2 separate regions of the Homo sapiens genome follow, and region 2 is linked to region 1. A link means that fine-mapping ties the variant in region 1 to the plasma level of a protein whose gene starts in the linked region. Region 1 holds a variant in brackets. A gene starts in the other region. All regions are shown on their forward strands.

The links. A credible set is the group of variants that fine-mapping cannot tell apart. PIP is the chance, under the fine-mapping model, that this variant and not a neighbour inherited with it causes the effect. Protein levels are from antibody-based Olink assays in UK Biobank. Linkage for the fine-mapping came from a reference panel and not from the study's own genotypes, which makes the PIPs less certain.
Region 2: it holds the start of BMPER, and the variant in region 1 is the best candidate, but not a certain one, in a credible set for the plasma level of the BMPER protein (UK Biobank, PIP 0.61).

What each region holds. Positions count from the first base shown.
Region 1 is chr10:93,078,252-93,081,162 of GRCh38, forward strand. No RefSeq gene overlaps it. Among named protein-coding and RNA genes, the nearest start is that of CYP26A1, 5.8 kb to the left of the region's middle. The variant G/T (reference allele first, on the strand shown) is at 1,716.
Region 2 is chr7:33,905,351-33,908,261 of GRCh38, forward strand. BMPER (BMP binding endothelial regulator) reads left to right here and starts at 189. Exons shown (of 15, transcript NM_001365308.1): 1 at 189-396; 2 at 1,468-1,553. The coding sequence starts at 264.

The sequences.
Region 1 (2,911 bases):
CACAGTCTGAACTGAAGGCCAGACTCTCAATCCAGAAAGGTTAGCCCCAGTGACTTGCTTATGCAAGCACATTTTTGGTTTTGGAATGGCACAATCTGCTCACTGAACCTCTGATGACTTGTAGGTTTCAAACTTTACATTTTTCATTACAATTTTAGAATTTGGCAATACTGCAGAAACCAGGTGGTCTAAATAGGTGTTTGAAAAGTGTTCTGTCTACAGTTACATATTCTACCTGACTATAGTTTTTTAGGTAGAACTTGGGTTGTTCTTATTGTTGGACTGCTCTGAATTTTAAAGGATGTTTATGTAATAACTCATAATGCCGTTAAAAAATGAGACATTTCAGGCTATGTAGTTTCAGCCAAAGCTTTAGTGTACTATAGTGTGCAGAGATGACTCTTCTACCCCTAACATTTTTCCTGGACATTTCCAGCTAGGAGCATGCTAGACTGAGGGCATAATTATTTCAGATAATTTCTACAAAGGCATTTTTAAATTTTATTTTATTTATTTTTTGAGACAGAGTCTCACTGTGTCACCCAGGCTGGAGTGTAGTGGCACAATCTTGGCTCACTGCAACCTCCGCCTCCTGGGTTCAAGCGATTCACCTGCCTCAGCCTCCCGAGTAGCTGGGATTATATATGCACACCACCATGCCCGGCTAATTTTTATATTTTTGGTAGAGATAGGGGTTCCACCATGTTGGCCAGGGTGGTCTTGAACCCCTGACCTCAGGTGATCCACCCACCTTGGCCTCCCAGAGTGCTGGGATTACAGGCGTGAGCCACTGCACCCGGCACAAAGCCATTTTAAAACAGCTTTTTTTTTTTTTTTGAAACAGCCTTGCCCTGTAGCCCAGGCTGGAGTGTAGTGGTACAATCTCAGCTCACTGCAACCTCCACCTTCCGGGTTCAAGTGATTCTTGTGCCTCAGCCACTTGAGTAGCTGACACTACAGGCGCATGGCACCATGCCTGGCTAATTTTTGTATTTTGGGTAGAGATGGGGTTCTACCACATTGGCCAGGCTGGTCTCGAACTCCTGACCTCAAGTGATTCATCCGCCTTGGCCTCCCAAAGTGCTGGGATTACAGGCATGAGCCACTGTGCCCCATCTAAAAGAGTTTTAATACTTTTCATTCTTCTGGAGGACAGCTGGCCTTTAAAACACTATCTTCGCTGACTTAGTGGCTCTGTTTCTCTGCGAATGTAGTGCAGTCGGAAATCTGAGCCATCTTAACATATCATTCATTTTTTAATCTGGGGAGCTTCGAGGAAAGTGCTTCTGGTTTGCATTTCCCAGGGCTAGATTTAGCCCAATTATCCTGATCAGTTACAGAGTAGCAAAGAATTCATCTTGAAAATACGTTAAAAACACAATCTTTGATCATGTGCTTTGTGCAGAGGAAAGGCAGTCTGGAAGCATGTGAGCAAGGCTGCTGTCTTGGACAATGGGCCTGGGTCACATCTCTCTGGGTCAAGTATGTTTTATGGCACAGTCACCTCTGGGCTGGTGTCCACGTGATGGAGAAATGATGTAGATTTGGCCAAAACTGTGGAAGGAGGGGACATGACCCCTCTTGGACTCACTCTGGAAAATGACCCTTCGGGCTCCTAGCAGCATGGTGTAGCGATAGGGGTGCTGTGCTGTCCAGGGCTGCTGCGGGTGGGCGACCAAGCTGGTGCCCTCTGCTTCCCCTTGCGCAATGCCCTT[G/T]GCCCTTGCTGCCTCCCATGTTCTCTTCAATCAGGACTGTGTTGCCACCAACCACAGACCACTGTCAGGACTGAGATGTGAAAGCCTGAGGCTTCAGCATTCAGAGGGATTGGAGCCTTTACCTAGCAAGGTCCTTGGAGGCCCAGAGACAGACTGTAGTTTTCCTGGGGCCACACAGGGAGTGGCAGAACCAGGAAAGACCTCCAGATGCCATTTTTTTTCTTTCTTTTTTTAAACAGCTAATAACACTTGCCCGATTTCTAACTCGCTGTTGCCAGACATAATCCAGGGGTCTCAACTTCCTAGCTTCCTTTTATGTCCCCTGCTACCACTCCCGTGCCAGCACAGATCAATTCTCTTGCAGGTCCCCAGAGGTGGTTGGTGAAATGGGAGCGCTGAGAGGAGGTGGCTGCTCCCCGAGACTCCCTGTCTCCGGTTGGGGTTTCAGTGCTTTTTGCACCCTGTTACTCTCCAGAGATCCACAAGGGGGCGGGCTTCTCCCTTCTATGCCAGGCTCAGAGGCCAGTGGTTTTCCCCACCAGTGTCCACGAATTCCAGTGTACAAGACTCTGGCCCAGGGCTTGCTTTTACCCCGGACAGTGAGAAGCTACAGGCCACCCAGGGCTTAGCAAGTACTTAGCACCAGGTCTGGTCAAGGCTGCCTGGCCCCTCTGGAAGGGGTCATCCCAGGCTGGGCTGACCTGCGCGTCTTTCAGTTCCTGAAGCAGCCGCCAACCCTTGGTGGTCTATGGGGTCAGCGGCCCAGGTTTCCAGCATTGCCCCCACACTGCCCACGTGTGGCTTATGTTGCTTTCACTCTACCTGGAAAATCGCTGTCAGTTTTGAGGGAGCAGGGAGCACAGTTTCCAAAGAACGCGGGCAAACTAATCAGCCTTCGGATGACCGCAACCAGGTGCGGGAGCCACCGCACAAAAGCACCTAGGGAGGAACGAGGGACGTATAGGGAGGTTGCGGTGGCTCCTTTAGACAGTCAAAGGGCTGCTGTAGTAAACACAGGTTCAGACCCGTTCTGAGGGACAGAGCATGCTCTTAGGAGGGTAAAGTAGGAGAGAGATGCTGGCGCCATGTAAGGAAAACATTCTGAGACAACTCCAGCCCTTTGGTGATGAAACAGGCTACCTTGTGAGAGGGAGAGAGTGAGCTCTCTGTCAACAGAGGCAGCCAAATACAAAGCT
Region 2 (2,911 bases), not on the chromosome of region 1:
TCCCTCAGGAAAAAAAAAAAAAAAGCCGCATCGGAGGAGCCTGGCCGCAGGACCCCTCCTCCCCGGGCGCCCCCACACCTTGGTCTCTCCCCCCGCCCTCCCTCACACCCCCCCGCCCCCCAGCTCTCGGGCGCCCGCCTCCCTCCTTCGCGGACGGTCTCCCGACACGCCGGCTGAGAGCCCTTTTCGACTGTGAGCTGCGGCAGCTGAGCAGAGGCGGCGGCGCGGGACCTGCAGTCGCCAGGGATTCCCTCCAGGTGACGATGCTCTGGTTCTCCGGCGTCGGGGCTCTGGCTGAGCGTTACTGCCGCCGCTCGCCTGGGATTACGTGCTGCGTCTTGCTGCTACTCAATTGCTCGGGGGTCCCCATGTCTCTGGCTTCCTCCTTCTTGACAGGTAGGGGAGGGGGCGGGAGGGACCGGCCCTCCGGGACGCCGGTTTGGTACCTGGGAAAGGTGGCGCTGGCTTGCCCCGGGGATGGGAGGGTGGGGAGCGCGCACCTTGGCGCTTGCCCTGCGCTGGTCGATGGGGATGAAGCGAAGCCCCGGGAGGGCTGGGAAGGCTGGTGAAGAGGTTGCGGGCTGAGAGGCTGTTGCCTTCAATGTAGTAATAATAGACATTCTTCTATTTGAATTTGAGAAATTATTTTATTTATTTTTAATGCTTTCCTCAACTTTTATTTTAATCTTTCCCTCTGTAGAACTCAGGAAAAAAATTTGTGCAGTTTTCCGCACATCTTCCTTTCTCATCTTTGGGGTTGCAATACATCCACTGTGCTAGGAGTGCTTTTTAAAGCACTGGCTCTCAAGACCTTGAATTTAAAGAAACTATCATTTAAAAAGGGCACTAATAGCCGGATATAATAATTATATGTTTTCAGGCAGGTGAAGACCTCAGCTGCTATTCTGAAGGACATACTTTACTGACACCTGGTGCAGAAAAGAAAATATGGAGTCAATTTCTAAGAGAAGGGAAAAGGGGATTGCGTTTCAAAAAGTGATTTAAACCTAAGACAATGCGAGACAGATTCATAGAAAGGCCTGTTTATTGACTCAGTTCTGAGTTTTGGTCAATTTAAAATCTGCCCCAATTTGAGGGTTTTTTTAAATTTTATTTTTTATTTTTTTCTTTGCGTATGGGGCTGTGTGCTTAGTTGAAATATCTTCATAAAGGAGGAGTGTTATTAAAAATCCAGTGAAATACTTGGAATTGTGCTTAGACCATCTGAGAACAGATAATTTATCCCTATATCATAGTCTTTTCTTTTTTGAACCTGTTTAAATAAAATTATTGAAAATGGAGTTGGGGGCAGAGGTTTTGCTTTGGTGAATTTAATAATTTAAACCACATTAAGAATTCTGAAGTTTGGGTAGAGGTTTCAAAAAGGATTAGTGTAAAAATTTTAAATGTTGAAATCATGCTGCTAAGCTAACTTTAAATGAAACATTTTTCCCCCCTGAATTTCAGGTTCTGTTGCAAAATGTGAAAATGAAGGTGAAGTCCTCCAGATTCCATTTATCACAGACAACCCTTGCATAATGTGTGTCTGCTTGGTAAGTGTGGAGATCAGGTAATATGAACTCAACTGCTCTCTCTGATAAGGTGAATCCATTAAATGTGATAATATAACCAGATCTTACAAATTGTCTTTATCATTACAAAATTGCACATAACTGTACATAGTTTGTGAGTTGAATCCAGTTAATTTCTGAGTTTTATGGACTTTGGCAATTTCCATTTCATCCAGCTGGAAATTCTTATCTTTGACATCATCCTTATAGACGTAAATTTCAGATAGGCTTTGTATGACGTCTCGGTGAAATGACAGTTTGTAATGTCTGTTTCCAGTAATGATTACTACAACCAAATTCTTGGGACAACAAAACTTTCTGCGTTGGTTCTGTCATTTAAGCTCAGTGGGAAAATGATGAGATAAGATTTAAGTATGAAGGTCAGGAATAAGGTATGCGACAAAGGGAAAGAGAGGTGACAGCCACAAAAAACAAACATAAGGACAAGATGTAATTCTGGATTTCTTTCTCGGGTTTCTTTGCCTGTTATACCCTAAACCCTCAAATACTGTCTTTATTTCTGATTTGGAAGCATGAGTCGGAAAGGACAATTCCATCCTTAATAGAGAATGACACTTGGCTGTCAGCTGCTTAGTTAACACTATCAGTGGTTAGAAGACTCAAAAAATAATTTGTTTCCATTTATTTTAGTTTAGTAGTTAATGATAAGTCTAATAAGTAACCACTTGGGGGAGATTAAGTAATGTGAATAAGAATTTCTGAGATGAAATATAGACCTACAAGGTAAACATTTTTGCTTAGGAGTGTTTTACATGCCAATCACTTTTGGCAAAATTTGGTTAGAAACTACACATTATAAAACCTTGTTGGAAATACATTAAGGCAGTCAAATGCAAAGCCCCAGAATGATAGAGGACTACTTGTTGCTAGATCAGCATGCTGTGTGGCGCTGGAGAAGGAATTCATTTCGGTTTAGGCAAAAGCCAAGCTATCTGAGTTTATACTACATAAATTTTTTCATGACAAGAGTTGAGGTCAATGTTTTGAAGTGATAAATGGGTGAAGGTAAATGGCTGTATCAAACAATTATCAGGTTCGGAAGACTAAGGAAATCAACAGAAACAAGTAAAAACGCACTGCGTTTGCTGACACAATAAATATTGCTGCCTAATAAAACAGAGCTGAGAGAGGGTGTATTATGATTGCATATTTATGGGTTGCTGTGTTCATTGATGATCTTTTAGTAAATAATTTGTTGAAAAGAAGCTTTCAGTTTAAATTTTGACTCAGTTGTAGATTTACAAATGCAGTGTGTGTGTATGTGTGTTTAATCTTCCTTTTTTATTTTTCTTATCTGTGTAATGTGAGTGAATTATTTT